Homo sapiens: one gene and its partners. The protein of the gene in region 1 purifies or fractionates together with the protein of each later gene. This does not show direct contact. Each region holds a gene or a part of one and is shown on either strand. Other genes may lie near its edges. The genes, in order: CUL1, CHEK1, FBXO7 and FBXL12.

The links.
Region 2: the proteins of CUL1 (region 1) and CHEK1 purify together in Homo sapiens (affinity purification with western blotting; 6 studies listed by BioGRID and IntAct, with this or other methods). This does not show direct contact.
Region 3: the proteins of CUL1 (region 1) and FBXO7 purify together in Homo sapiens (affinity purification with mass spectrometry; 15 studies listed by BioGRID and IntAct, with this or other methods). This does not show direct contact.
Region 4: the proteins of CUL1 (region 1) and FBXL12 purify together in Homo sapiens (affinity purification with western blotting; 8 studies listed by BioGRID and IntAct, with this or other methods). This does not show direct contact.

Annotation. Positions count from the first base shown.
Region 1 is NC_000007.14:148,785,842-148,793,416, forward strand, and holds part of CUL1 (cullin-1), read left to right. Parts: intron 1-709; coding exon 710-758; intron 759-1,147; coding exon 1,148-1,279; intron 1,280-2,715; coding exon 2,716-2,833; intron 2,834-3,908; coding exon 3,909-3,985; intron 3,986-4,468; coding exon 4,469-4,600; intron 4,601-6,884; coding exon 6,885-6,977; intron 6,978-7,575. UniProt on the Homo sapiens protein: Core component of multiple cullin-RING-based SCF (SKP1-CUL1-F-box protein) E3 ubiquitin-protein ligase complexes, which mediate the ubiquitination of proteins involved in cell cycle progression, signal transduction and transcription.
Region 2 is NC_000011.10:125,641,817-125,649,391, forward strand, and holds part of CHEK1 (serine/threonine-protein kinase Chk1), read left to right. Parts: intron 1-1,975; coding exon 1,976-2,084; intron 2,085-2,274; coding exon 2,275-2,452; intron 2,453-2,695; coding exon 2,696-2,827; intron 2,828-7,575. UniProt on the Homo sapiens protein: Serine/threonine-protein kinase which is required for checkpoint-mediated cell cycle arrest and activation of DNA repair in response to the presence of DNA damage or unreplicated DNA.
Region 3 is NC_000022.11:32,477,686-32,485,260, reverse strand, and holds part of FBXO7 (F-box only protein 7), read right to left. Parts: intron 6,281-7,575; coding exon 5,986-6,280; intron 1,365-5,985; coding exon 1,137-1,364; intron 194-1,136; coding exon 52-193; intron 1-51. UniProt on the Homo sapiens protein: Substrate recognition component of a SCF (SKP1-CUL1-F-box protein) E3 ubiquitin-protein ligase complex which mediates the ubiquitination and subsequent proteasomal degradation of target proteins and plays a role in several biological processes such as cell cycle, cell proliferation, or maintenance of chromosome stability.
Region 4 is NC_000019.10:9,815,912-9,824,088, forward strand, and holds the start of FBXL12 (F-box/LRR-repeat protein 12), read right to left. Parts: upstream 3,169-8,177; 5' UTR 2,903-3,168; coding exon 2,817-2,902; intron 2,707-2,816; coding exon 2,634-2,706; exon of another isoform or gene 1-2,633. UniProt on the Homo sapiens protein: Substrate-recognition component of the SCF (SKP1-CUL1-F-box protein)-type E3 ubiquitin ligase complex.

The DNA of each region.
Region 1 (7,575 bases):
GGAACACCCCTGACCCAAGAGTGCCAAGAATAGGGTTGGGTTTTCTGAACCAACTTTTCTAAAGTTGGAGACACCTCTTCAGAGTTTCTGTGGTGGCTGATTCGTTTTATATGAATTAGGGGGTCTTGTTTATAAAGCAGTCTTGTAGAAAAGACCTGTACAAAAATTCATCTACCTTTAATTCACCTTTGAATTATTATTTGTTCATAGAATGAATCAGTTGTTAAAGGACAATCATCTCTTGTATATACAACTACAGAGGGCAGCAGTTTAGTAGGAATTTAAACCCCTTCATCATCTTTAATGACTGGGCCATGAAAGGGAATCTATGTGCCTTTTTATTTCTCCAAAGTTAAATTACAGCAGACTAGAAAGCAATTGGTAAAGTGAATTTCCTTTACTGAAGTTTAAGTGGATTATCTTAAAGGCAAACTTCTTCAGAATGTTTTTGGAAATGTTTTATAAATATCTCCTGTTGGTTTTCACCTTGGATATTCTAAATGACTACTTCATAATCTGTTCTTCAGTGTTGAGGTTACAGTATGAGATTGCCAGTTTGCTGTAGGTAAGGAAAGTCAACCTTCCCTCTTCCTCTGCACTAATCTGATGAGAACTGATCTTTTGAATGCTTGAAGCTGCATTCTGGCTAAGTGGTGCTTGTTTAAACGTACTGATGTTTTAAAACATGGTATCTTTTTAAAATTTTCAGTTCCAAGAACCCAGAGGAGGCAGAACTAGAAGACACACTCAATCAAGTGGTAAGTGCTTCATGAGCATACCCATTTCCAGTAGCTGTGTATTTCACAAGCTGTTTGTAATGTTATTTGTAGATGGCCTCTGAAATGTGAAAAGTAATAATCATTGATTTTATTTTGAATCTCTGGTTTTACTTCCTAAATTGAGTTACTACTTTTAGCATTCATACTTTTCTCATTAATACTCAGTCAGTCCAACTCACTGAATTAAGGGACTCACAAAACTTTCAAGACTCTGGAGTGGAGATTTTGCCATCATAAACGTTGGCGTACAGACCTGCCCAAAGCCAAAGGCACATCTTGGCTCCTGGCTTGTGGCCGGTGACAGTCAGCTCTGCACTGTTGGCTTGTGTGTGTGCTGGTTAAGTGTGTTGTCTCGGTGGCTTTGCCAGATGGTTGTCTTCAAGTACATAGAAGACAAAGACGTATTTCAGAAGTTCTATGCGAAGATGCTCGCCAAGAGGCTCGTCCACCAGAACAGTGCAAGTGACGATGCCGAAGCCAGCATGATCTCCAAGTTAAAGGTGAGTTTCATCTTTTCCTGAAAAATCCCAGCTTCTGAGTCATTATTAAAACAGCTCTATGGCCGAGCGCGGTGGCTCATGCCTGTAATCCCAGCACTTTGGGAGGCCGAGGCGGGCAGATCACGAGGTCAGGAGATCGAGACCATCCTGGCTAATATGGAGAAACCCCATCTCTGCTAAAAATACAAAACATTAGCCGGGCATGGTGGTGGGCGCCTGTAGTCCCAGCTACTTGGGAGGCTGAGGCAGGAGAATGGCATGAACCCGGGAGGCAGAGGTTGCGGTGAGCCGAGATCACACCACTACACTCCAGCCTGGGCAACAGAGTGAGACTCTGTCTCAGAAAAAAATAAAAAAGCTCTTAGTCTCTCCAGGTTATGAGGCAGGCAGAGGAGTTTGTGCAGTGGTTTGTACAAGAAGCTCTGCCACTGCTCTTCTGAAAGCCTCCCACAACTATCACTCTACTCTCGTTGGGCCCCGGTGCCTTCCCAACCCCTTCCCCACCCCACTGTGGGGCTTCCATCCTACCCAGGCCTGGCTGGGCTCAGCTCACCATCTGTGGGGCCTCTCCTGCCTCCCACACCTTTAGCCTTGCAGCACATTCACACTTCCACACTGTGCTGGCCTGGAGCTGAGTGGAGGTTTTGTTTGCTCTGGGCTTGGTTACTTTGCTGTCACGCAGCCCTTCCTCTGCCACCTCCTTTGCGTGCCTGTGTGTCGGCGCTGTCGAGTGCTCTTATCTGACTTGGGACATACTTTACTTTGGCCCCAAATTATGTAGGTATCTTTGTCAGCGTGGGCTGCCATGACGGAATACCATAGACCAGGTAGCTTAAACAACAGAAATAGTTTCTCACAATTCTGGGGGCCACAAGTCCGAGATCAGGGTGCCAGCTGATTCGGTTCCTGGTGCAGGCCCTCTTCCTGCTTTGTAGGCAGCCACCTTCTTGCAGTGCCTCACGTGTCAGAGAGAGAGTGCAGAGCTCTTGCACATCTCTTACAAGCACACCAATCCCATTGTGAGGCCCCATGCTCAAGACCGCATACCTCCACACAGCATCACGTTGGAGGTTTGGGCTTCAACATAGGGATTTTGGGGGCACACAGTTCAGCTTCTGGTAAGAGATAGAGACAGATTATTTCATCATTGTATTCTACCAGTGTCAGGACACCTTGCTCTTAAATGCTCACAAATTGTGTATGAATTGTGTGTGTGAACACTTCACTGTGCAACATAGAGTTGTGGGGTTTTTTGACAGTGTATTAATATTAATCCATGCATATTTGTACTGTAAAATATAGCAAAATGTTACTAGCTTTGCTAGTAGTTCCATATAATTAAGTATATATTGTATACTCTGATTTCTCTAAGATTCCCTTGTATACATTTGTATTTTTGTACAAATTAATAAGACAGTCATCTGGGTTCTTCTCAGCAAGCTTGCGGGTTCGAGTACACCTCTAAACTTCAGCGCATGTTTCAAGACATTGGCGTGAGCAAAGATCTGAACGAGCAATTCAAAAAGCACTTGACAAACTCAGAACCCCTAGACTGTGAGTATCCGTGTGTCTCTATGTTGTGTTTACAGGCAGAGTTCTCTGTAGCAAATGAAGAAATGACAAAATATTAGGTGAAGATGGGAGGGGCTTTGTCAGAAATTCAAGAACTAAGAAGCGGGAGATTCCTCCCAAATGCCCAGCCCTCCTCCCCCGACTCCCGTGTGACATTAGGAGATGACAACCCTTGAAGTGGTGTCAGCTCTACTGGGGCAAGGTCACCACCTGTTGGGATCTGGGGAGGGACTCACAGGCGTGGTTTTGTCTTGTAAACCTTAGCTTGGATCCATTCTAGCATTTATTTTAATGTTCACTTGGCCTGCATAGGTAACAGTCAAGCTAAAGACCTGTGGCTTCAGACTGGGATTAGGGATCAGTACAGGCAGGTGCAGGTGATTCAGTTCTCCAGGAGAGGCAGCTGGGCTGGTATTTTAGGGCCTTGCATAGTAGTAGGATGGCGGATTTATGCTTACATCATCTTTTGATCATCTTTGTCTTTTTAAATGAAAAATGGAGAATTTTATTTTTCCCAAATCAGAATGACAATTCTATTGTAAAACTGGACAGTTTTGCCAGTGGGCTTTTTAACTATCTGCGAAGATGAAATTACTGTTATAATTTATAGACCATGTGTGGCGTTTCCCAGTAATAAGTGAAACATACACTATAATGAAGTTAGCGGTTTTCTCCTGCTTGTGAGTTTGCATGAGTCTGGGGCTGTGATGATGCCGGGCCTGGCAAGCACAGGCGTGGCTTGAGTGGACTGAGTGATTCAGGACAGAAAAGGAAAGCAAGGGAAGCAGGGCAGGCGTGTGACAGCAGAATTCCGAGGTGGAAGCAAAATGAAGACTCTCACTCTTTGGAAGAAAAGAGTATCTGGCTCTTGCACTTTTTGCTAATTTTAATTGAATAAAATGTTCAATTCTTAATTTTATATTCAAGCAGGATTTTTATTTAATGTGCTTTTTAATAAAGAGCAATCCACATTCATCTGAAATGATTGAATTTTTCAGTTTATAAACTAATTAATGTATTCCAGAATGTTCACTCTCCCCTCTCTTCCGTCCCACAGTGGATTTCAGCATTCAAGTGCTGAGCTCCGGGTCCTGGCCCTTCCAGCAGTCTTGTACATTTGCCTTGCCGTCAGAGGTAAGGATGGGTTTGTCTGCCATCCCATTAGTGCTAAGTGGAGGGTGGGGCAGGGCAGCCTTCACTGTGGAAGGGGACAGGCCTGCAGATGGCCTTCCTGCTGGCTGGCTGCATCACGGTGAACCATGGGGGCAACACTCAGGGAAGAGCCCTGTGCAGTGGGGCAGGTCTGGATGTCTAAAGGTGGGCTGTCTGTCCCAGCTCTACAGACATGTTTCCTTATCTTGTAAAGCAGAACCTAATTAGTTGTGTAATGAACACCTCGATGGACCTGCTGGTCTTGAAGTACAAACCTTTTTTAAGATTGTACCTTCCAGTGCTTAAAGTGCTTTACAAGAGAGGCAGACACCTGGCGTTTGTATTTTACTTTTATGTAAGCACTGACTTTGTACTGTAAGCTTGGAACAGTGGGCTTTACTTAGAAACGCTGCCTGTAGGATGTGGTGAGATCTGTATTCCATATAATGCTGTCCTTTTATCTAGTTGGAACGTAGTTATCAGCGATTCACAGCTTTCTACGCCAGCCGCCACAGTGGCCGAAAATTGACGTGGTTATATCAGTTGTCTAAAGGAGAATTGGTAACTAACTGCTTCAAAAACAGATATACTTTGCAGGTAAGATCACATTTTTATCTTAAAATTTTTCTATTCTAAATGAACATAAGGCAAATTATGGAAATCATTATCAGCTGACTCAGCAGCAGAATCTAGAATTCAGCTTCTGGTGAAATAGTGGCAGGTTTAAAGCATGGAGTTGTAAGAATCAGATGAACCAAATTCCAATTCTTTCTGGCTGGGGAGCAAGTTATTTAATGATTGTGAGCCTCAGTTTTCTCCTCCATTAATGGGAGTGTTAGTACTTTATAGTTGGGAATTGATGTGAAAATTAAATAATGTATTTAGTAAGTGTTTGGCACCGCTCCTGCCTGACACACATCAGCTGTTCAGGTAGTGACTTCAAAAGCTGGAGTTGCATGCATTTCATTATATCAGCTCTCCACCTTACACAGAGCACTTTCACATTAATAACACTCAGTGCTGACAACAATATTGAGTACAACCTAATTTATACCTATGTAACTAAGAATATTTCCATTTCTTAGAGGAGAAAACTGAGGCTTGGGTTAATTTAAGTGAATTTCTCTGAATCCTAGCTTATATGTAGCTGAGCCAAAATTTCAGTTAAAGTCTTTTCTCTTAAAGTCTAGGCTTGGGCTGGTGTGGTGGCTCACGCTTGTAATCCTCACGCTTTGGGAGGCTGAGACCAGAGAATCACTTGAGGCTAGGAGTTTGAGACAAGCCTGGACAACATAGCAAGACCCCATCTCTAGATATTTTTTAAAGTAAAAAGAAAAAAAAGTCCAAGCTCTTTCTACTTCCACTTTTGTACTGAGTGGTCTTCACAAGTAATGGCATATTTTAGTCTCTGAGAAGTTTTCACCAGTGAGTTTCTAAGAAGAATTGCAAATCTGTGTTTAAGTATTAAGAAACTCCAGAATGGGTTGTTCTGCAGACTCAAGCTGCTCATTAATTTAAACTTTTCGTAAATCTACTGTGACTTAAAATTGTTAAAATGCATAGTATTATGCTGGCTCCAGAGGTCTTTATCAACTTGAATGTTTCTTACTATACAATTGAAATTTTGTTTCATTTATCCCCAAATATACATAGAAGAATCCATGTGTTCCACTACAGTACCTGGAATTTCAGTGTCCAGTTTTTGACGGTGGAGGCTTTGCCTAGGGTGTGTCTGCCGTGTTAAGGCAGCCCGGAGCGGGCCCAATAGAAAACATTAGCAACACGCTCGTTCCCTTGTATCTCTGTTCAAGGCCCTGGAAGCAGTGTTGTCTGTGGGCCGCCCTGAAACAGGCATGTGGCGTTTTTTGTTTCTCTTTCCATTGACCAAGGTCTTGCCGAGAGGCAAGCAGTGACTGACAGTCATGGGTCATTACTTGTTGCTGTCGATTATGCAAGAAAACAGGGAGAAGAGAAGGAAGGCGTCCTCGGGGTGTTCATTCGCTTGCACACACTCAGCAATCAGGAACCAACACGTGCTACCTGTCTTTTAGAAGATACTTTAGGGCCGGGTGCAGTGGCTCAGCCTGTAATCCTAGCACTTTGGGAGGCCAAGGCAGGCAGATCACAAGGTCAGGAGTTCGAGACCAGCCTGGCCAGCATGGCGAAACCCCATCTCTACTAAAATACAAAAATTAGCTGGGTGTGGTGGTGCACGCCTATAGCCCCAGCTACTCTGGAGGCCAAGGCAGGAGAATCCCTTGAACCTGGGAGGCGGAGGTTGCAGTGAGTCGAGATTGTGCCACTGCACTCCAGCCTGGGTGACAGAGCAAGACTTTGTCTCAAAAAAAAAAAAAAATAGAAATTTAGTACACTTGCCATTTCATACTTTACTTACTTTTTTCATACTTTCATAGTAAAGTACTTAGGATTAGAAAACCAAATATAATTTGATATTTGTGTTGTTTTACATCAATAATGTGCCAAAAGATAATATTCCTTAGCTCATGTGCCAAAAACAGATTTGGAGATTGATGCTTAACATGTCCATATATACCAGGTGTGTGTATATGTGATTGTCTCTATAAATGCGTGGGGACGTATCTATAGTATGTATCCACATAGACAATACGTTTTTTAAAAAAAACCCTCAAATTATTTTAATGTTTGTAAACATGGAAAATGAATGACTTTGGGAAAATGTTGCATTGTAGTGGCATTGCCACGTTTTATATTCCCTTTTAAATAGATCTGTGCTTTTTTTGTACTTGTTTAAAGAATTTGTTTCATAAATAAGTTCTTCAAACTTGGGCTGTATATTTTGGGAGGTGTTTCCATGCATGTAAATTTTCCTTCTTTTTCTTTTATATGGGGGGCCGCAAAGGCGTCGACATTCCAGATGGCTATCCTGCTTCAGTACAACACGGAAGATGCCTACACTGTGCAGCAGCTGACCGACAGCACTCAAATTAAAATGGTATTCTCATCTCAGGCTCGTTGTTCTATCAGCTTGCCGTTTCCTTGTTCTCGTGGATATTGTTAGGAAAGATAAGGAAGAGGATATGGGCATCTTTAATTTGAAATAGATGTTTGCCTCATGAATATGAATATGGCCTTATTCCAGGATTTTAATACGCACTACAAAAAGCTTCATGTTAAAACTCATTGTTGAGCCAGGCATGGTGGCACATGCCTGTAGTCCCAGCTTCTTGGGAGGCTGGGGCGGGAGGATCACTTGAGCCTGGGAGGTCGAGGCTGCAGTGAGCTATGATCGTGCCACTGTACTCCAGCGTGGGTGACAGAGACCCTGTCTCTTAAAAATAAAACTACGTGTAACACACACACACATACTCCTCATCCATGCTTTTCTCTCATTCATTTAACCAGTTAGGCTTTTCTTACTAAGCTTAAATTTCCACTTTAGTATTATTTTTCCTGCTAGCCATATTTTTTATTGAGATATATTTTAGATAATAAAATTTGACATAACATAAAAGTCATTTTAAAGTGTACAAAGTGGTTTTTAGTATATTCACAAGCTTATAGAACTACCACCATTATCCAATTCCAGAGTG
Region 2 (7,575 bases), on another chromosome or scaffold:
CCTATCATTCCAAATTACCATGATATCTTTCCAAAATGTTCTGATTTAAAAGTGAATTAGAATATATCACTATTCTACCCAAATCCTCCAATGCTTTAGTTCTCACGTGTAGTGTAAGCTAAAATCAGTTCATGACCTGTGAGTTCTTACACAATTTTGTTCCTTACATTACCTCTCCAACCTCAGTTCTGCTTTGCTCCCCCTTGGTCATATTGTTGTTCTTCTTATTGTTCTCCAAGTGCTCTAGGCACACTTCTACCTCACTGTTTTTGTAGTGACTGTTCCTATGTCTGAAAATGCTTTTTCCCATGGGACTTATTTGCATGTCTTATTCTCTTACTTTCTTTGGATATTGACTTCAGTGTCATCTTTCCAATAAGCCTTTCCTGGCCATGCTATTTAAAATGGTATCCTCTTCCCTCTAACACATTTCTTAAATTTTTAAAATTTTTACTCTCTTGTGGACATACGCAATCCAACACGTTTCTTCATTTTATTTTCCTTCAGTGTACTTACCACCATTTAGCTTACTGATTTTTAACTGTATTTGTATTTATTTTATGTTATTTTGTCTCTCCTCAGTAGAATGTAGGATTTAAAAGGTCAAGAGTTTTTTTTCTATTTTGCTCACTGCTGAATACCTGATACCTAGAATAATGCCTGGCACAGAGTAGACCTAATAAAATATCTGAATGAATGGATTAATAAATAAAAAGCAGGTTTAAAAAAAAACTTGAGCATGTTTAAAAAGAAACAAACTTAAGCATGTTTAAGTGGTTTGGGTACGGATCCTGTAGAGAGGAAGAGGCTGACAGTCTAAGAGAAAGGAAATAAATAACAGAGGATCAAGATCCCTAAGGAGGTAGAAGGGTATGGGCTCCAGAGCACAAGTAGAGAGATGAACATTTGATGGGAGAATGGAAGGGATGAAAAGATGTATAATAATACAAATAACTTAGCTTTGGTAGGGATAAGTTGATGTAGTTTCTGTCTAATGGCTTTATTTTTTCTCTGAAATGGGAGGTGGTAGTATAGGTACTGGATGGTAGTCTTGGGAATTACAGAAAAGTGTAGTTTTGAAATGATCCTTGTGGAGAAAAGGAAAGGAAACTAGAGAAACAAATATTATCTGGCAATATTGAGGTTTAGCTAGGGATTGTAACCATAAATTTACAGTGGCGTCATTTTCCATATAATATTCTTCTTTATAAAGCTTTTCCAAGGAATCAAAGAATGTTGGCTATAGCAGATTCATAATGTTTATTGCTATTATCATAAATTATTTTTTATTTTAAAAAGTTCTAGTCCTTTAGCCAGGTCTGTTGTCTTCATAGAACATTGTTCTGTTACCCATAAAAGATGCCATTAAGACTGTGGCCTGGGCCGGGCGCAGTGGCTCACGCCTGTAATCCCAGCACTTTGGGAGGCCGAGGCGGGTGGATCACGAGGTCAGGAGATCAACACCATCCTGGCTAACATGGTGAAACCCCATCTCTCCTAAAAATACAAAAAAAAAAAAAAAAAAAATTAGCTGGGCGTGGTGGCGGGTGCCTGTAGTCCCAGCTACTCAGGGGGCTGAGGCAGGAGAATGGCGTGAACCCTGGAGACAGAGCTTGTAGTGAGCCAAGATCGCGCCACTGCACTCCAGCCTGGGTGACAGAGCGAGACTCCGTCTCAAAAAAAGAAAAAAAAAAAGATTGTGGTCTGAGCATACTCCACACTTTGAACATGTCTACAGATCATACTTAGGTATTGTAAAATACCTAATTTGACAAATGAGTTTTAGTAATTTTATAACTTGGCCATATTTTTTATAAAATCATATAGGAAGACTTTGTTTTATATCTTACAAAAATTTTGTGTTAAATAAATAGATTTAGACATAGTTTTACTTCTTCAAGTTGCCAGTTGGGTTAATTTAAAAACATACTTGCATAGAAGACTTGAAAGCATTTGTATTTGTTTTCTTTTTTAGGGGCAAAAAGGCCCCGAGTCACTTCAGGTGGTGTGTCAGAGTCTCCCAGTGGATTTTCTAAGCACATTCAATCCAATTTGGACTTCTCTCCAGTAAACAGTGCTTCTAGGTAAGACTGATAAAGATTGAGTAGTTTTTGATTGTAGTATTCCCCATGAAGAATAATACATGTATGTGTTTTTTCATAATAATCGACATTAACATAATACTGTAAGCATGAGAACTTGTGTGTGATATAAGAAAGGCCTGATAGATTTTATTTTATTAAATGTATGTTTCTTTCTGTCTTAATGCCTCAGTGAAGAAAATGTGAAGTACTCCAGTTCTCAGCCAGAACCCCGCACAGGTCTTTCCTTATGGGATACCAGCCCCTCATACATTGATAAATTGGTACAAGGGATCAGCTTTTCCCAGCCCACATGTCCTGATCATATGCTTTTGAATAGTCAGTTACTTGGCACCCCAGGATCCTCACAGGTGAGGGAATTTAATTTTTTAAAAGTAATGGCAGCTCTTTATTTTTTATTGTCTTAAAGTCCTTTTTTAATGTGTAAATCTTAGATATATAACTTTTAAATCACATGTATTCTTTTTTGGTCAAGGAAGAAAGAGAGGAGGGAGGCCTTCATGCAAAATAATTTTAAGTCAGACTAAATAGCTATGATATTACTGTCTTTAGTCCTAATGGATTTATTCATTTGTCTTCTGTTTGACATGTAGAACCCCTGGCAGCGGTTGGTCAAAAGAATGACACGATTCTTTACCAAATTGGATGCAGACAAATCTTATCAATGCCTGAAAGAGACTTGTGAGAAGTTGGGCTATCAATGGAAGAAAAGTTGTATGAATCAGGTGTGTTTCATTGATTTTCATTATACCTTTTCCTGAAGAAGAATTTAAATATTTGAGTAAAAGCTATCATTAGTATATTTTTTAAATATAGGCTGTGGCTCACACCTGTAATCCCAGCTTTTTGGGAGGCTGGGGTGGGCGGATCACCTGAGGTCAGGGGTTCGAGACCAGCCTGGCCAACATGGTAAGACCCTGTCTCTACTAAAAGCACAAAAATTAGCCGGCCTGGTGGTGCATGGCTGTAATCCCAGCTTCTCGGGAGGCTGAGGCACGAGAATTGCTTGAACCTGGAAGACGGAAGTTGCAGTGAGCCGAGATCCTGCCAGTGCACTCCTGCGTGGCCAACAGAGTGAGACTGTCTCAAAGAAAACCAAACAAACATAAAAATACAAAGTAATTAGTTAATTTGAAAAAGAAACTATTTAAGTAAAATGTTCTTTACTTTAAGAAATAATACTTTTTTTTATTTTGTTTTATTTTTTAATTTTTAATTTTTAGCCACTGTGCCTGGCCTAAGAAATAATATTTCTTAAAAGACCTTTTTATTGTTATTAAAAATAGTAGGGAGCTGGAATCATTATCTTTGTAAAAACTATGTATACTTAAACTGTAGACAATAACAGTTGACTGCCTACTATGAAAGACGAATACATTAGCAATCCCACACTTTCTCCCATCTCCCTTGATTGCACCCGTCAATTTTTATTGTTTATATTATTAGAGCATAGTTATAACATTGGTATTCTAAACTGTCTTTAAGGCTTTTCAAAAAAAATGTTAATGTCAATGAAAGACAAATAGGGTAGCTGTTTTTTACTCAAGGAGACTAAAGAGGCCTGATAACTAAGTGCAAGTGCAATGCATGATCTTTCACTAGATCATGTATTTGAAAAAAACTATAACGGACATTATTGGAACAATTGGGGAAATTTGAATATGGACTGTATATTAATTAGGTAATGTTTTTGTATCAGCGTCAGATTTCTTGGGTGTGATAATACTGTGGTTTGTAGGAGAATGCCCTTGTTCAAAGGAGAACAAGTGTCAAAGCAAAGTTGAAGTGAAGTGATATTTTCATTCAGCTTAAAATTTAAAAAAATAAAGGGCAAACAACTACATAAAGGCCAATAAACACACACATATCTGGTAGATAAGGCCAATGAAGAGTATATGGTTATTTATTATACTCTTTTTTCAGTTTTTCTGTAGATTCGAGTTTTCAAAATTAAAAATTGGGGGAACTGTTACTGTGTAGAAATCTGAGGTCAGCCTGATAGTCTTCTCACTCACATAGGTGATTCACTTTCTTTCAGGTAGACTCAGAGATAAAATTTGCATAACATAAGAATCATCACTTTAACCATTTTAAAATGTAAAATGCAGTGCTTTTTAGTATATTCACAAGGTTGTGCAACCATCGCCCCTAATTCCAGAACATTGCATCACCACGGGGAAAAAAAAACAAAACACCTCTGTACCACCTAGAATCACTCTTTATTCCTTTCTTGCTCCATTCCCAGACAACCTCGAATCTACTTTCTGTCTTTAGGGATTGCCTTTTTGGACATTTTATATAAATGGAATCATATAACATGTAGTCCTTTGGGTCTGTCTGCTTTCATTTAGCACGTTTTCAAGGTTCATAGCATCTATCAGTACTTTATTCCTTTTTATGGCTGAATAATATTCTGTTGTGTGTATGTATTACATTTCGTTTATCCATTCATCCACTCATGGACATTTGGGTTGTTTCTACTTTTTCATCATTATGAATAATACTGCTGTGAACAATCTTGTACCAGTTTTTGTGTGACCATATGTTTTCAATTTCTTAGATATATATGGAGGAATAGAATTGTTGGAGCATATGGTAACTCTTCATTTAACTTTTTGAGAAACTGTGAAATGATTTTTCCAAAGCACCTGTACCATTTTACGTTCCCATCAGTAATGTAAGAGGGTTCCAATTTCTCTACAACCTTGCCAACACTTACTGCCTCCCCTTTTTGCTATGGCCATCCTAGTGTGTATGAAGTCTTATCTCATTTTGCTTTTGATTTTCATCTCTCTAAAGACTAATGATCTTGAGCATATTCTTATATGCTTATTGGCCATTTCTTTATAACAGTATCCGGATATTTTGTCCATGCTTTAACTGGCTTGTTTTTATTGTTGAGTTGTTAGAGTTCTTTTACATTCTGGACACTAGAACCTTGTCAGGTACCTGATTTGCAAATATTTTATCCCATTCTGTGGGAGAAAATTCCCCCATTCTTTTGTTTTCTTGTTAGTGTCGTTTGATGTACTCAAGTTTTAGATTTTGATGAATTCCAGTGGATCTATAATTTCTCTTTTGTTGCCTATGCTTTTAGTGTCAAATTTAAGAAACTGTTGCCTGATGTAAGATTGTAAAGATTTATACTTTATGCTTTCTTTTAGGAGTCCCAGCCTCCTAAGTAGCGGGGACTACAGTCTTAAAGTTTAGCTCTTATATTTAGGTCTTTGTCCATTTTGAGTTAATATTTGTATATAGTATGATGTAGGGTGCAAATTCAAATGTTTGTATGTGAATATTCAGATTCCAGCACCATTTGTTGAAGATATGTTTTACTATTAGATGGTCTTGGCACCTTTGTTGAAAATAAATAGGTCATAGATGTATGGGTTTATTTCTGGAATCTCAATTCTTTTTTTTTCCTTTTTTTTTTCTTCCCCTGTGGACTCAATTCTTTTATTTCATGGATCTATATGTCTGTGCTATGCCGTTACCACACTATGTTGATTACTGTAGCTTTATAGTGAATTTTGACATTAGAAAATATGAGTTGTCCAAGTTTGTTCTTTTTTTCAAGGTATTTTGGTTATTTGTGGCCCCTTGTTTTTCTGTCTTTTAGGATTATCTTATTTCTGCAAGAAAAAAATTTGGAATTTTAAAAGAGATTACATTGGGGAGTATTTCCATTTTAGTATATATTGAGTATTCTTTATTCAAGGTGCTTGGGACCAAAAGTTTTGTGGATTTTACATTTGTTTGGATTTTGGAATATTTGCATATGCATATTGAGATAACTTACAGATGGGACTCAAGTTGAAACATGAATAATTTTATTTATGCTTCATATATACCTGATACAGATAGCCTGAAGGTAATTTTATACAATGTTTTAAATAATTTTGTGCATGAAACAAAGTTTGTACATTGAACTATCAGAAAGCAAACCTGTCAGGTATGAAATTTTCAGTTTGTCACATGATGTCAGCACCTGAAAAGTTTTGGAGTTTGGAACATTTTGGATTTCAGATTTGAGATTAAGGATGCTAAACCTCTAATAGTAACTCTTCTAATCCAATAACATGGGGCCTTTTTTTTCCCATTTTTTTAGGGTCTTTAATTTCTTTCAAGAATATTTTGTAGTTTTCAGTGTTCAAGTCTTGCACTTCCTAGGTTAAATGTAATCCTGTTTATTCTTTTTTTTTTTATCCTGATGCTGATGTAAATGGAATTTTTTAAAATTTTATTTTCAAATTGTTCATTGCTATATGCAAATGAATTTTGTATATTGATCTTGTATCCTGAAAATTTGCTGAATTCATTAACTCCAGTAGTTTTTTTGACAAATTCTTTAGGTTTTTTAATATATTAAGATTACATTATTTGGCAGGGCGTGGTGGCTCACGCCTGTAATCCCAGCACTTTGGGAGGCCGTTGCGGGTGGATCATGAGGTCAAGCGTTTGAGACCTGCCTGGCCCACATAGTGAAACCCCGTCTCTACTAAAAATACAAAAAATTAGCTGGGCGTGGTTGCGGGCACCGGTAATCCCAGCTACTCGGGAGGCTGAGGCCGGAGAATCACTTGAACCTGGGAGGCGGAGGTTGCAGTGAGCCGAGATGACGCCACTGCACTCCAGCCTGGGCGACAGATCAAGACTCCGTCTCAAAAAAAAAAAAATTACATTGTTTATCAATAGAGATACAGGAAATTGTTTTACTTTTTTTTTTTTTTTTAACCCAGATGCCTTTTAATTCTTTTTGTTTAGTTGTCCTGGCTAGGACTTCCAACATTATGTTGAACAGAAATAGAGTCTTTGTCTTGTTCTTGATCTTAGGGTTAAGTTTCGAGTCTTTCAGCATTAAGTATGATGTTAGCTGTGGGGTTTTTGTTTTTATGGTGAAAGAGTATTGGATTTTGTCAAATGTTTTCTCCGTCTATTGAGATAATCATGTGGATTTTTTTTCCCTTTATTAATATAGCTTGACCTCCTGTGCCCAAGTGATCCTCTCATCTCAGCCTCCTAAGTAGCTGGGACTACAGGTGTACACTATCATACCCAGCTAACTTTTTAAAAATGTTTTTGTAGAGATGCAGTCTCTGTGTTTACCAGGCTGGCCTTGACCTTCTGGGCTCAAGTGATCCTCCTGAGTAGTGGGTACTACAGGTGTGCACCACCATGCCCAGCTAAATTGACAGTTTTCATCAGTCTGTTTATTTTGTCTAATGTTAGTATATCCACATCAGCTCACCAGCTATCTTGTGTATTTTCCTTTTTTTAGATGGAGTCTCACTATGTTGCCTAGGCTAGACTGTAGTGGCTACTTAAAGGCACGATCATAGTGCAATGCAGCCTCAAATTCCTGGGCTCAAGTGACCCTCCTGCCTTGGCCTCCCAAGTAGGTGGGACTGCAGGCATGTACCACCATACCCAGCTACCAGCTCTCTTTTGGTTATTGTTTCCATGGTCTATTTTT
Region 3 (7,575 bases), on another chromosome or scaffold:
AAACGTCTAAGAATCCATAAACCAGCAACCATGACTATGCTATCCAATTACCATTTACAACAATCAGGTTTCCCAAAGGCACACAGGTGAGAGTAGCGGAGCTGCCCTCGCAGAGAGGATGCATGTACTGCAGCTTATACACCCCGCTCAACTTCCACTTCTCCGGCATGGACAGTGCTTTGGCTTCGGTGCCCTGGGGAACGAAATGAAAGGGAAACAAATAATGAAGAAAGGTGTTACTCTCAAAAAGATTAAAAATCCAAAAGACTCCTAACTTGTTTGAAATAATCACTCCACACAGTCCTCTTAATAAAATGCATCAAATCATTAACATTGCCAATATATTTTATATTGTAGGATAACCATATTGTATAAGATAATATATTAGAACACTTTTAATCAAAATTTTTGTTCAAATAGGTAAAACTGCATCATGGAAACAGGGATTGATCTCTCTCTTCAAAGACTCACTTCTCTCCTAGCAAAGCCATATGATTATTTAAAACTCCGGCTCAAATATCACTTCCTCCGTAAAGCCTTTTTCAAAGAAAAATTGTTTGCCATTTCCTTTCATCCCCTAGCATTCTATTCATATTTCCATTACACTTCAATTGTATTATTATCTATGTTTACCTGTGTTATTTCTGAGTATCTTTTTATTCATCTCTCTCCTCTATGTATGGACTCCTTGAAGACAAGAAATATCCCAATATTTTTATATCCTAATTTCTAGGTCAGTGCATGGCATGCTGCAGGTGTGCACTGATCACCGAACTACTCTGTATCTTTGTAACTTATAACATGGCTCACAGACCAGCAACATTGGTATTATGCAGGAGTATGAAGAAGTTCACGGTCCATTCTACAGTTACTAAATCAGAATCTGCATTTTAATAAGGTCCCCAGGTATTCCAAAGCGCATTAAAGTTTGAGAAGCAATATTCTAAATGTTCTCCTCCATGAATTCCTGGCATCCTATATATGAGTATGTTTCTCCCAGAACTTCACCAATATAGCACAGTGCTTTATATTTTTGTCTCTCTCTGCCACTCTCAGACTACGGGCAACTTGAGAGCAGGAACCATCCACATGTATGAGCAATCATAAGATGTCTGTGTTTTGCTTGCAGTACTTACCTGAGGTATGTAACCTGACTCCAACATGAGAAGATGTATCAACACTATCAAGGCATCATTGGCATCAGAACAGTCAGCTGATTGATACAAGGTCTCTAATGAATGTGGCACTTGCCCTTCCACCGATTCACTACAGAGCATGGGTTCTGAGGGATAGAAACCTGTGCCCTCTGCCATATGCGCATTATCTTGAATTGACTCAGCTTCAAAATTTTGACTAGGCCCTAACTGAAAAAGGAAAACAAAACAATGAATTAATTAAAGACTTATTTTTACACTATACATTTTTGTATCCTAAAGTGAACTAAGTGCTGAAAGTCAAAGTACATCATTGGGTTCAGAAATGGGAGACATTTTAAGTGAGTCCTTACAAATAAATAAGCCTGCGACCTACTCTTCCATCCTGAATTCCTTACCTCTGTTAATTCTAGCTGGTATGTCAAGAACCTGGAAATCATCCTAGACTCCTCCCTCCCTAACTAAACCTTGTTCCACATCTGATCAGTCTTCAAAGTTCCCTGAAACTAACTCCTAAATATGTCTAAAATTTGCCCCTTCCTGCTCTATTGGCACTTCAAACTCTCATCATTTATTTCCCGACATCCAGCAAGAGCTTCCGTTGCAAGTATCCCTTCTTCAACTTTCTTGTCTTCCAATACACCCCAGTCCCTGCTGCCAGAATTTTCTTGACAATTAAAAATCTGATCATGTACTATGTCGCAGCTTAAAATTCACCAGTACCTCCCCAACATAAACAGCATTTCCCTCAATTGTGCCTTAGATGTTCTTAGGAAAAAAGGTGGTGCACACGGAATAAGTGTGGAAAATACTGCATGCTGCAGCCACCTAACTTCACCCTCCATATTCACAAAATACACTATTCGCATTATATAAGCACTGAGGAGTCTAATAACAATAATAGTGTGTGCCTAACACTTTACCAAAAAACACTATCCTCCGTCCTCAGCAGTCAACATCCCTGTGACACCATCTCATGAAACTAGATTTTCAGAGGACACTGAGAAATGCAGGTCTACAAATGAAGACCAAACTTCTAAATCCCTTAGCATACAAAGTCCTTCATTACCTGATCTCTGACTCATTATCAAGTTCACTTTCTGCCAGTGCCTTCTTACTCATCCCAGTATTTTCCACTTCTTCAAAAGAGGTAACACAGACCACAACTCTGCCTTGCAACGGGCTTGATTACTGCACCTTATCACACTGCACTGTATTGCAATTTTCTGATTACATATCTGCATCCTTCCATGACTGCAAGTTTATAAAAAACCAGACTACATGTCACCCATTTTTGTAACCCCAGTAAAGTACCTAGCACATAGCAGGTATTCAATGTTTGCTGAACAAATGCTGAAGGATAATACCTTACAACTTCATAATGTCTTTATTTTCAAAATGTTTTCTTATTTGCACTTTATAACAATCCTATAAAATAGGCATGGCAGGTATCGCCTTTTTATAGATCCTATAATTATAAATCAGAAAGATTAAATAACATAATCAAGGTTACCAGCTAATAAAAATTTGAAACGAACCCAGATCTCTAAACTTGCAGTTCAGGGCTTTGAGATGTAATACATGGCTTCAAAAAAAACTAAGTTACCTATATTAAGTTTGCTCAGAAAGCTTGTTTCCTAGGCATATGCCCAACTCTTAATGCAAAGCATACGTTTCGTCTTTTTAGGGTTTGTTTAAAGAAGGGGCAAAGGAAATTAAAATTACACAGTATATGTAAAAGGTTGGAGAAATGGAGGGGAGCCGGAGGTGACAGCTGTTCTTCCAAAATCTCTGAGGACCTAAGCCCTAGGGCTTATGGAAAAGATCCAAAGTCACCTGTTAAAACCTAAAGGCCAATGACAAGTCACATTACCCAAAAAGGAGGTATGGCACAAAAATATTTCCATATTTCCTAAGAAAACAGAAACAACTACATTAAAAACCACTTAACATCAAGCTAAACTATGAAACATAGGTTTTGCTTCTTTACCACTATGTCTAACTTTTGGCCATTTACTACTTATTGGCAGTTGTGTGGGACAGAATATATGAGGAAAAATGAAAAAGGGTACCCTAGGCTGAGTACATGAGAGGGAGATATCAAAATCCCCTGCTGGGCTTGTCAAGCCTTACTACTACTCCATAAGAACCACTGACATTCTCTGAGCTATTCTGATATGAATATTTATCAAATTCTTCACATGTGTAAAAATGAAAAAAAAAAGGTGAGCACCACACCTCTCTAAACAGATCATTTTGCCATATGTCATTTACAAAAGACTAAAACAAGTGACTAAGATGCATGAGAGCTAATATTAGGTTCTGATACCTGCTACCCGTTTCTCATTAAAGACTCAAGAGGCACTCGATGAATTCCCAAATATGATGAAATAAGAAAACTGATATTTAATTACAAGAGTAAATTTACCTCCTATGGTTTCAAGTTTTACGCATCTATTTTCCTTTTCTAATGCTCCATTCTACATTACAGAGTGTGATGTACTTGAAAGCATTATTTATGAGATCTTGAGCTCAGTTTCCATACTCTAAAGATTTTCCTGTCACCCTTTACAAGTCTTGGAATACAAAACAATATGCAAAATCTTAGAACTGAAATTAGTAACTTCAGGCAACATTAATTTCTCAAAATTTTCCAAAAGGAAACTAGCAAACTATCACAAATACTGTGAAAAGCTTCATCTTACTAGACAACTTTAAAAGTACACAGAAGTAAAAGTAATGGCCCCTACTAAGTCATCCCAGAACAAGTCTATCAGCAAAAAAGACTCAGAAATATAATTTAAATATACAGCGAAATATTCTTACTCATTCCCCAGTTTACCTCTATGAGGCAGAAACACACAGATAAAACAATAACTTTAAAAATAAATTAAAATCCACATATCTGGACATAATTTTCACAATTTACCAATCTATTAAAAAGTATTTTTTAATATGTCTATACTTAATGCCATGACAAGTTACCATGAATACTTATACTCAAAAATGTTTAAGGCCAGCAATTAAATTGAGGTGATAAGCATACATACAAAAACCAATTAACAAGAAGGCATGTGTATTGGTATTAAAAAAATAAAGGTGATCATTTGCACCATTCAAAAAATTAAAAGGGCGGATAAAGGCCAGGCACGGTGGCTCACATCTGTAATCCCATTACTTTGGGTGGCCAAGGTGGGCAGGTCACTTGAGGTCAGGAGTTCAAGACCAGCCTGAGCAACATGGTGAAACCCCATCTCTACCAAAAATACAAAAATTAGCCAGGCGTGGTGGTGTCTGTGGTCCCAACTACTCGGGAGGCTGAGGTGGGAGAATCGCTTGACCCCGGAAGGGTAGGGTTGCAGTGAGCTGAGATTGTGCCACTGCACTCCAGCCTGGGTGAGGGAGTGGGATCCTGTCACCAAAAAAAAAAAAGGTGGGAAAAATGAGGAGGCATGTACAAGGCAATAAAGATAATCAGATAATCAATACAAAGAAATTAAAGAAAACTATTGGGCTATGGTTGGCAAGGGCTTAGGAAGATGGGTAGAAATATAGACTAGAGAGGGAGGAAAGGTAACAGGTTCCAGTCTGGGTGAACAGCAAGAGCAAAGTCACAAAAGTAGTCACCAGGTTGTGTGTGTGCACATGCATGCAAGCAGGTGAATGTGCTGGTTGGTGGGGGCGGGGGAAAATGATGGGTCTGTTCTGATTGGAGATGACAGTTTAAAGGAAGGAAGAACAGAAACTAGCCCTAAAAAAGTTGAGTGGAGTAACTTTTCAGAAAGCCTTGAGCACTAGGTACAGGAGGACAGACACCATTTTCCTCTTCTGTAAAATGACAGGGTTGAACTAGAGATATATTGTCTTTTTCAGCTCAAAAATTATGAGCACAAGTTTATGAGATAGAGTTATGAAAGACAGCAAGGGAACAATAGCATCAGAACCATGTAGGAAGAAGGCAAATCCAGAAAACAGACTGAGGAATAAAGCCATGGAACCCGAAATGGAAAAGAAGAACTGACAAAGCTTATTAATGGGCTAGATTTAAGGAGTCAAAAATCACAGAAAACCAGCAGTGCCACTGACAAAGAAGGGAACTGAGCACACATATTTCCAAATTTATGTTCAACATCTAAAGTCTGCAATGACAATTTAAAATCCAGGTATAAATATCCTGCAAGTCATCTGGAAATAATTAGACCACATCTATAGCCTTAATGAGCGGACCAGATCAGAGAAGCAAGGCTAGGAATCATGAGCTTAGGAACAATAATAGAAGTCAAGGAATAACTGATCTGAAGGAGAGTATGTGAACAAAACAGACAGACACTAGGTACTTTGGGATGCCAGCCCCATATTGGTACAGGCATTTGGCAGTTAAAAAAAATATATTCTATAAAAATATAATCTGCAGCCAGGCGCAGTGGCTCATGCCTGTAATCCCAGCACTTTGGGAGGCCGAGGAGGGCAGATCACGAGGTCAAGAGATCGAGACCATCCTGACCAACATGCTGAAACCCCGTCTCTACTAAAAATACAAAAATTAGCTGGGCGTGGTGGTGTGCACCTCTAGTCCCAGCTACTCGGGAGGCTGAGGCAGGAGAATCGCTTGAACTGGGAGGCAGAGGTTGCAGTGAGCAGAGATTGCGCCACTGCACTCCAGCCTGGTGACAGAGTGAGACTCTGTCTCAAAAAAAAAAAAAAAGAAAAAAATATATATAAAATGTGCAATCTATCGATGATAATTATCCTGACTGGAACAGAATTCAACTGAGGTGTTCAATATGACTTATCACCTACTCTATTTGATATATTGGTGTTTAATACCCACCATACTGTCGTCATTCCAAACACCAGACTGGGCTGCCTGTCCTTGGAATGAATCACTTGGTTGTTCATCCTGCATGCTAGTCTGATTGGAGCTGGTGGCCAAAGAGGGTTGCTCATTATTCTGGAGTGAAGAATGCTCTGAATCTGTGGATGAAGGTATATTAGGCGCTGGAATGTCATCTTGAAGAATCAAACATATCAAGTCCCCAGAAACAATCCCATATGAAGCCAAGGTCTCTTCATCTCCAGTGAGGGGATCCTTGTAGTTCAATGTAATTGTAAATCGGGTATTAGAACTGCCAAGAAAGACAGATAAGCATAGTAAGAACTACCTACTTCTAATACCTTCAATAGCACATCTGAAGCATACATAAGTACACAGTATGACCCTAGAAGAACTAAGTGATGAAGAGACAAGGTCTCACTATGTTGTCCAGGCTGGTCTCAAGCTCCTGGCCTCAAGCAATCCTCCTGCCTCAGCCTCCTGGGTTGCTGGGATTACAGGTATAAGCCACCATGTCCAGCTACATTTTTGTTTTTGTTTTCGTTTGTTTTTAGAGACAGAGTCTCACTCTGTTGCCCAGGCTGGAGTGAAGTGGCACAATCACAGCTCATGGCAGCCTCAAATTCCTGGGCTCAAGCAATCCTCTCACCTCAGCCTCCAGAGGAGCTAGGACTATAGGCACGCATTACCCTATCAAGCTTATAGTTTTGAGAAAATTATCAAAAGTATTTATCAATGAATGCCTAATCTATAGATTTCTAATGGCTAAAACTCTCCACCTGGGGGACGGGATACAGTAATCCTCTATCACTAATCCATGCTTTCCTCAATTCTAAGATGCACAAATTTTTTTTGACATCTTTGAAATTAAGATACTTCCTAAAATCAATGACATATCAATTGACAGCATTTTCCCCTGCTGTTACATAAAACAATATGTCTTACAAGTGACAGCAACTAAGATTCAGTGAAATACCTTTAAAATACAAATTAGATCACATCATTCCTTCACTTAAAATCTTCCAATAGCTTCTATTTGGAATCCTTAACCTAACTTCCAAAGCTCAACGTCTGACCTCTTCCCATTTCTCCTACTGCATCCTGTGCCATCCATCCTCTCTCACTGTTCTCTATTCACATGAGCTTTCCATCCGTTCCAAAAAGCAGATCAACTTCATTGCAGCCTTCGGGCCTCTCCGTTTGTTCTTCCAGATCTTCAAATGACTGACTCCTCTTCATCATTCCAGTCTCAGCCCAAATGTCACCTCTTCAGAGATGCCTTTCATTCAGACTCCAGCGCTCTCTATTCTGTTATGTTCTACTTGAAAACATCGTATTTACTTGTCTATGATCTGTCTACCCTACCTCTGCCACTACAACTTAAGTTTCATAAGATCAGCGATCTTGTCTGAACAGTTCAAACCATATCTTCAACACTGGCAAATAAAGTACTTGTGAAATAAATGCAACCACCAAACACTAGTTGGGAAGATCAAGAGATGAGCGTGAAATCAAGGATGTCTATTCAATATCCTTACAGGACAGTTTACTTATAATGGTTCCGAAAAACCAGATCCATATATTCAT
Region 4 (8,177 bases), on another chromosome or scaffold:
GTGCTGGGATTATAGGCGTGAGCCACTGTGCCTGGCCCTGAACCTCAGTTCTTGGCTTCTGTGCACCAGCAGGCTCAAGACCATGTGGAAGCTGCCAAGACTTGGGGCTTCCACCCTCTGAAGCCACAGCCCGAGTTATACGTTGGCCCCTTTCAGCTACAGCTGGAGCAGCTAGGGCACAGGACACCAAGTCCCAGGGTGAACATAGCACAGGGACCCTGGGCCCCCAGGAAACCACTTTTTCCTCCTGGGCTTCCAGGCCTGAGATGGGAGGGGCTGCCGTGAAGGTCTCTGACATGGCCTGGAGACATTTTCCCCATGGTCCTAATTAGGTTCCTTGCTACTTATGCAAATTTCTGCATCTGGCTTGAATTTCTCCCTAGAAAATGGGTTTTTCTTTTCTATCACATAGTCAGGCTACAAATTTTCCAAACTTTTCTGCTCTGCTTCCCCTATAAAACTGAATACCTTTAACAGTACCCAAGTCACCTCTTGAATGCTTTGCCACTTAGAAATTTCTTCCACTAGATACCCTAAAACATCTTTCTCAAGTTCAAAGTTCCACAAATCTCTAGGGCAGGGGCAAAATGCCATCAGTCTCTCTGCTAAAACATAACAAGAGTCACCTTTACTCCAGTTCCCAACAAGTTTCTCATCTCCATCTGAGACCACCTCAGCCTGGACCTTATTGATCATACCACTATCAGCATTTTGGGCAAAGTCACTCAACAAGTCTCTAGGAAGTTCCAAACTTTCCCACATTTTCCTGTCTTCTTTTGAGCCCCCCATACTGTTCCAACCTCTGACTGTTACCCAGTTCCAAAGATGCTTCTACATTTTTGGGTATCTTTTCAGCAACGCCCCACTTACCGCTACCAATTTACAGTATTAGTCTGTTTTCACACTGCTGCTAAAGACATACCTGAGACTGGGAAGAAAAAGAGGTTTAATTGAACTTAAGTTCCACATGGCTGGGGAGGCCTCAAAATCATGGCGGGAGGTGAAAGGCGCTTCTTAACATGTTGATGGCAAAAGAAAATGAGAAAGAAGCAAAAAAGGAAACCCCTGATAAACCCATCAGATCTTGTGAGACTTATTCACTATCACAAGAATAGCATGGGAAAGACTGGCCCCATGATTCAATTACTTTCCCCGGGTCCCTCCCACAACACGTGGGAATTCTGGGAGATAGAATTCAAGTTGAGATTTGGGTGGGGACACAGCCAAACCATATCATGAACCAAGAGAGAAAGAAACATGTTTTAATGAATCTTCTCAGGCGGCTGAGGCAGGAAGATGGCTTGAGCCCAGGAGATGGAGGTTGCAGTATGTTATGATTTTGCCACTGCCTGGGTGACAGAGTGAGATCCATCTCAAAAAAATAAATTAGAAAAAGATAAACTGCAGAGCATAAATGTTATGGGCTACTTTTGACAGAGGAATCAAATCTTCCTTGCCAAATTTAGACCCGTGTGGGTCAGCAGAAATTGACTAGAAATAGTGGCCACCGAATGGTAACTCACAAGGGTAGCAGTTAAAGTTGGTAAAATTTTAAATGCACACAAAACCAATGGACGAATCAACTTTTCCTCGCAAAACCAACAACTAAGTTTCAACAACTGAGAAAAAGTTTCATATTATCAGGCCAGACACTGTGGCTCACACCTGTAATCCCAGCACTTTGGGAGACTGAGGTTGGGGGACAGCTTCAGTCCAGGAGTTCGAGACCATCCTGGGCAACATAGCAAGACTCTGTCCTTAAAAAAAGAACTTCAAAAGCAACTGTATTAAAGGGAGTTACAGATGGATATATACAGTAAAATTGTTTAAAAGTAGAACACTATCTAAATAGTAGAACAGCATTACCCGAAGTTCAGAAATACATTACTAACACTATAATTGTTTTTGGACACACACATATGAAGTAACGTAAAAGGAAGGGTGCAAATTCACTTTATAATAGCAATTATCTATGAAGACAGTTTCAAAAAGGGCAACAAATATATCTATAAATGTTTTGAGCCAGTTGCTGTGGCTCATGCCTGTAATCTGAACACTTTGGGAGGCTAAGTCGGGAGAATCACTTGAGCCCAGGAGTTCGAGACCAGCCTGGGCAGCATAGTGAGACTCCGTCTCTACAAAAAATAAAAAATTAGCAGGTGTAGTGGCGAGCGCCCGTGGTTCCAGCTACTCAGGAGGCTGATGCGAGAGGATCGCTTGAGCTTGGGAGGTCGAGGCTGCAATCGCACCACTGCACTCCAGCCTGAGCAGCAGAGCGAGACTCTGTCTCAAAAACAAAACAAAAACTTGATAACATAGTCATAAATTAGCATTTATCGAATGATAAATATGTGCCAGACTGTTCTAAGCCCTTTCCCTGCGTGATCTCAGTGAAGTCCCATAATAGCCCCGTGAGGCAGGTACTGTCCTTTATCCCCATTGCAGGGATGAGGAAATTGAGGCCCTGAGGTCGAAGAGGAGCTGGTAAGCGATGATGCCGAGATAGGCCCCGGATCGCCTGGCTCTAAATCCCCAGCCCGGGCCCCGACACACAGTCCCAGGGTGGGAGAGGTGGTCTTCGGGGTCCGGGCACCGCGACCGCGGCCCAGGCCCGCCCGGCCAGCTGCGCGTACCGTGTAGAGCGTCAGGTCGACATGTCGCCACAGCCACCGGTCGTCCACCAGCCTCTTCCAGCGGTGACAGACCCTGGGGGAGGGGACGCGCGGTTAGAACGACCCCAGCCCCGGGCCACATCGCATCTCCAGGTGCCAGCTGCGCCCTCCGCCCTGCCCTTCCCCCCGGAGGCGGGGCCGCACCTGGAGATGCGGATCCGGTCCCGTACCGGGAGGTAAGAGAAGATCTCGAGCAGGACCGAGTCCGGCAGTTCGACCAAAGTCGCCATGATCCCGCCGACACGCACTTCCGCTTCCGGTTAAAGAGACCCGAGGGGTCCTGGGGGCGCCGAGGCGGCTGACAGGGCGGCGGCCGCGACCTTCCCGTAGCCGGTCGAGAAATTTGACCTTCCTCTCGCTGGGAAGTGATTCGGTCCCAGGGCCGGACCAGCCGCGGATGGGGACCAGAAACCAGCCTGGAAAGCGTGGCTGAGGCAGTGAGAGGCTTGCGGGAGGTGGCTGAGGCGTGATTTGGCCGCGACTGGGAACTAAGACCAAGTCCAGAAGGCGGGGCTGGAGTGAGGCGAAGCTCGGAGGCGGGGCTAGAGACGAGGACCAAGTCCGGAAGGCGTGGCCGGGGTGGGGTGAGGATCGGAGGCGGGGCTAGAGACCAGGACCAAGTCCGGAAGGCGTGGCTGGGGTGGGGCGAGGATCGGAGGCGGGGCTAGAGACGGGGACCAAGTCCGGAAGGCGTGGCTGGGGAGGGGCGAGACCCGGGGACGGGGCTAGAGGCGAGGCCCAAGCCCGGAAGGCGTCGCTGGAGTTGGGCGAGGCTCAGGGGCGGAGCCAGAGAACGGAACCAAGTCCAGAAGGCGGGGCTGGGGCGCGGCTAGGGGGCGGGGCTAGAGACGAGGACCAAGTCCAGAAGGCGTGGCTGGGGTGGGGCGAGGATCAAGCCCGGAAGGCGCGGCTGGAGCGGGGCGAGGCCTAGGTGGGGCTGCAGACGAGAACCACGCCTTGGAGGCGTGGCTAGGGCGGGTAGAGGCTCGGACAACCGCTGGAAGGCGGGGCTGGGGCGGGGCGAGACCTTGGGGGCGGGGTTGACGACGAGGACCTAGCCGAGAGGTCGTGGTCTGGACGGAAACCAGGCTGCAGCAGGACCAGGCGCCAAGGGCGTGGCTGGGGAGCGATGGAGACGCTCGGAAGGTGGGGAGCGGGGGACGGAGACAGGGAGAAGACTACGCCATGAAGGCGTGGTTGAGGCGGGGCGAGGCCTGTGGGTCTGGCCCCGAGCGAATGGCTTGGTAGAGAGTCAGAGAACTCTATTTTTTTACTTAATGATGCTTCTTGATGTCTATGCACAAGGATAAATTTGTATTACTGGAATATCGTGGCCAAAGGACCTGTTGAATTTTTCACTTTCATTGATACTACAGATATTTTCTGAATTGGCAAGTCCACCAAGAAACTATAAAAATGTGTGTGTGCAATGGCTGCACACAGCAGCTTCCTTGGTAGTGTACGCAGCCTGTTGGTTGTATGGGTTGCTCTAAGGGACCTTGGAGACAGGCCTTTCCGATGGATGTTCATGTTTCTAACCTTGCACTACCACAATGTAGGCTCCAAACAGGCATGTGAGGTGCCTTTGGAAAGCCCCAGGGCACTGTGGCCAGGGTTGACATTGGCCAAGTTATCATGTCCATCCGCACCAAGCTGCAGAACAAGGAGCATGCGATTGAGGCCTTGCGCAGGGCCAAGTTCAAGTTTCCTGGCCGCCAGAAGATCTACATCTCAAAGAAGTGGGGCTTCACCAAGTTCAATGCTGATGAATTTGAAGACATGGTGGCTGAGAAGCGGCTCATCCCAGATGGCTGTGGGGTCAAGTACATCCCCAATCGTGGCCCTCTGGACAAGTGGCTGGCCCTGCACTCATGAGGGCTTCCAATGTGCTGCCCCCCCTATTAATACTCACCAATAAATTCTACTTCCTGTCCAAAAAAAAAAATGTGTGTGTGTGTGTGTGTGTGTGTGTGTGTATATATATATATATATATATATACACACACACACACACACGCACGCCTCCTGAAGCCAGGAGGCGGAGATTGCAGTGACCTGAGATCGCGCCACCACACTCCAGCCTGAGTGACAGAGCGAAACTCCGTCTCAAAAAAAAAAAAAAAGAATATGAAAGAGATTGTGGAGGTTGCAGTGAGCCCAGATCGCGCCACTGCACTCCAGCCTGTGCGACGGGTGCGAGACTCCATCTCAAAAAAAAAAAAAAATCATGTTACTGCAAAGGACATGATTTCATTATCTTTTTTTTTTTTTAAATTTGGGACAGGGTCTCTCTCTGTCACCCAGTCTGGAGTGCAGTGGCGAAATTATAGCTCACTGCAGCCTTAACCTCTGGGGCTCAAGTGATCCGATCCTTCCACCTCAGTCTCCCGAGTAGCTGGGACTGTAGGCACATGCCAACACGCCCGGCTAATTTTTGTTTTGTTTTTTGAGATGAAGTCTTGCTGCATCACCCAGGCTGGAGTGCAGTGGCACAATCTCGGCTCACTGCAACCTCCGCCTCCCAGGTTCAAGTGATTCTCCTGCCTCAGCCTCCCGAGTAGCTGGGACTACAGGCGCCCGCCACCATGTCCGGCTAATTTTTATGTTTTTAGTAGAGATCAGGTTTCACTATATTGGCCAGGCTGGTCTCAAACTTCTGACCTCAGGTGATCCACCTGCCTCAGCTTCCCAGAATGCTGGGATTACAGGTGTGAGCCACTGCGCCCGGCTAATTTTTGTATTTTTTTCTAGAGCCGGGGTTTTGCCATGTTGCTCAGGCTGGTCTTGAACTCCTGGGCTCAAGTTCTTCCTGCCTCAGCCTCCCAAAGTACTAGGATTACAGGCGTGAGCCACCACGCCCAGCTGATTGCATTTTTTTTATGGCTGCATTACGTGTGTCTTCTTGGCTTGTTGCCCTCCTATATCAGACTGAATTCTGGGGTGGCAGGTGGGACTTGTGCACCCCGGCCCTGCTGAGGTGCTCAGGTAATGGGGGGAGGAAACTCCTATGCCCCTCCCTCCACCCCTAAGATTATTTCCCTTCTTGTGAACTCTGGCAGGGGAAGGGGAGTGCCTCTAAGTTTGGCAGAACCCAGGTGTCCCTTCCCTGCCATCCCTACTCAGTTACAGGGGGTTCCTGCACCACCAGCATACAGGGCTGGAGAGAGGGAAGTAGTCAGGTGAGAGCAAAAGAAACCCACATACAAGCTCCTTCCTCTGGGCCAGGAACCCAAGAAGCAAGGGGGGAGAAGAAGCCTCCCCAGCTTGCTCCTTGGGTCTTGACCCAAAACTCTACCTCCTGGGAAGTATCCACCTCCCCCAAGGAAAAGCGGCTGTGAGAACAGCAGATCTTCCTACAGCAGGCTAGGTCTCCATGTGCAACCACAGCAGTGAGCCTTCACCAACACCTTGTGGTAGCTCTGATGAATACGTAAGTTAAATATTAAAGACCTGGAAAAACTGGGGCCTTCGAGCAAGGGCTAGAAGGTAAAACAAAGTCCTTAAGACCCTGCCTGGGTTTTCTCAGAACTTAAGAGTTCAGTTAAAATAATGGAGGCATTCTTACATACCTCGTAAACCTTGTACCAGGATCCACTTTATTTTTTAAAATTTACTTTCTTTTCTTTATTATTTTGAGACAGAGTTTCGCTCTTGTTGCCCAGGCTGGAGTGCAGTGGCACGATCTCGGCTCACTGCAACCTCCACCTCCCGGGTTCAAGCCATTCTCCTGCCTCAGCCTCCCGAGTTGCTGGGATTTAAGGCATGCGCCACCATGCCCAGCTAATTTTGTATTTTTAGTAGAGATGGGGTTTCACCATGTTGGTCAGACTGGTTTCGAACTCCTGACCTCAGGTGATAGCTGATCCGCCCACCTCGGCCTCCCAAAGTGGTGGGATTACAGGTGTGAGCCACTGTGCCCAGCCTTTTTTTTTTTTTTGAGAGAGTCCGACTCTGTCCCCCAGGCTGGAGTGTAGTGGTGTGATCTCGGCTCACTGCAACCTTTGCCTCCTGAGTTCAAGTGATTCTCCTGCCTCAGCCTCCCAGGTAGCTGAAACTACAGGTATGTGCCACCACACCTGGTTAATTTTTGTATTTTTAGTAGAGACAGGGTTTTGCCATGTTGCCCAGGCTGGTCTTGAACTCCTGACTTCAGGTGATCTACCACCTTGGTCTCCCAGTGTTGGGATTACAGGTGTGATGTAATGGCACCCGGCCCCATTTTCCTCTTCTCTCAGCAGCACTTCCCATCCCTTTCCCAACTCCTCGCCCCACAGCTCAGCACCAAGACCCTGTGCTTGGCAGATCTTTGAATCAAGCACTGAGAAATTAGAACATTTTGAAAAAGCAAACATTTCCTTTTCCACCCCCGGTGATTACAAAAGTAACATATGTTCTGTGTCAGAAATCTGGAAAAACACCACGAAGAGGGAAAATGAGGCCGGGTGTGGTCGCTCATGCCTGTAATTCCAGCACTTTGGGAGGATCACTTGAGGCCAGGAGTTTGAGACCAGCCAGGGCAACATAGTGAGACTGTCTCTCCAAAAATTAAAAAAATCAGCCAGGCGTGGTGGTGCACGCCTGAAGTCCCAGGAGGTGAGTCCCCTTGAGTCCAGGAATTGGAGGCTGCAGTGAGCTATAATTGTGCCACTGCACTCCAGCCTGGGTGACAGAGCAAGACACTGTCTCAAAAAAAAATTAAAAAATTAAAAAATTAAAAAAAAAAAAGAAGGGAGAATGAGACTCTCAGTAATCCTACCATGAAGTGGTAACTACAGTCAATGCTTGTGTGACCCTGCATTTCTTTGTTTTCAAACAGTCTCACTCTGTTGCCCAGGCTGGAGTGCAGTGGCATATCTCAGCTCACTGTGACCTCTGCCTCCTGGGTTCAAGCGATTCTCCTGCCTCAGCCTCCTGCGTAGCTAGGATTACAGACGCCTGCCACATTTTTGTATTTTTAGTAGAGATGGGGTTTCCCCAATTGGCCAGGCTGGTCTCGAACTCCTGACCTCAAGTGATCCACCCACCTTGGCCTCCCAAAGTGTTGGGATTATAGGTGTGAGCCACCGTGCCTGGCTGTGACCCAGGATTTCTAAGAGAATGCAAAGATGTGCTGCTTCTAAACTTCCTTAGGCACCTCAGCCCCCTCAGCTCACTTTTGACCTTCCAATCTGTTTCATCCCGGCTAGAGTCTCCCCAAAAGCAGAGGCAGGGGAATTCCCACAAAGGAATGCCCTAAATCATCCCAAGATGGGGCCAGTGGGGATTTCAAGAAAACACCAATTACCAGAGCAATCAGTCCAAAGCATTTATTAGGGAAACTTACAGAGTGCTCCAACAATCATCAAGACAGGAACGAAAAGGGGTGTTCTACCGAGGCACAGCTGCAGCTAGGGGGTCAGGACATGGAGTTCAGATGCACAAGTCAGCATGTCTGGTTTCCATTACTATTTTGAGTAATGGGCCACCTGCTGGTCTGGCAGGTGTCAGCTTGACCAAAACAGGATT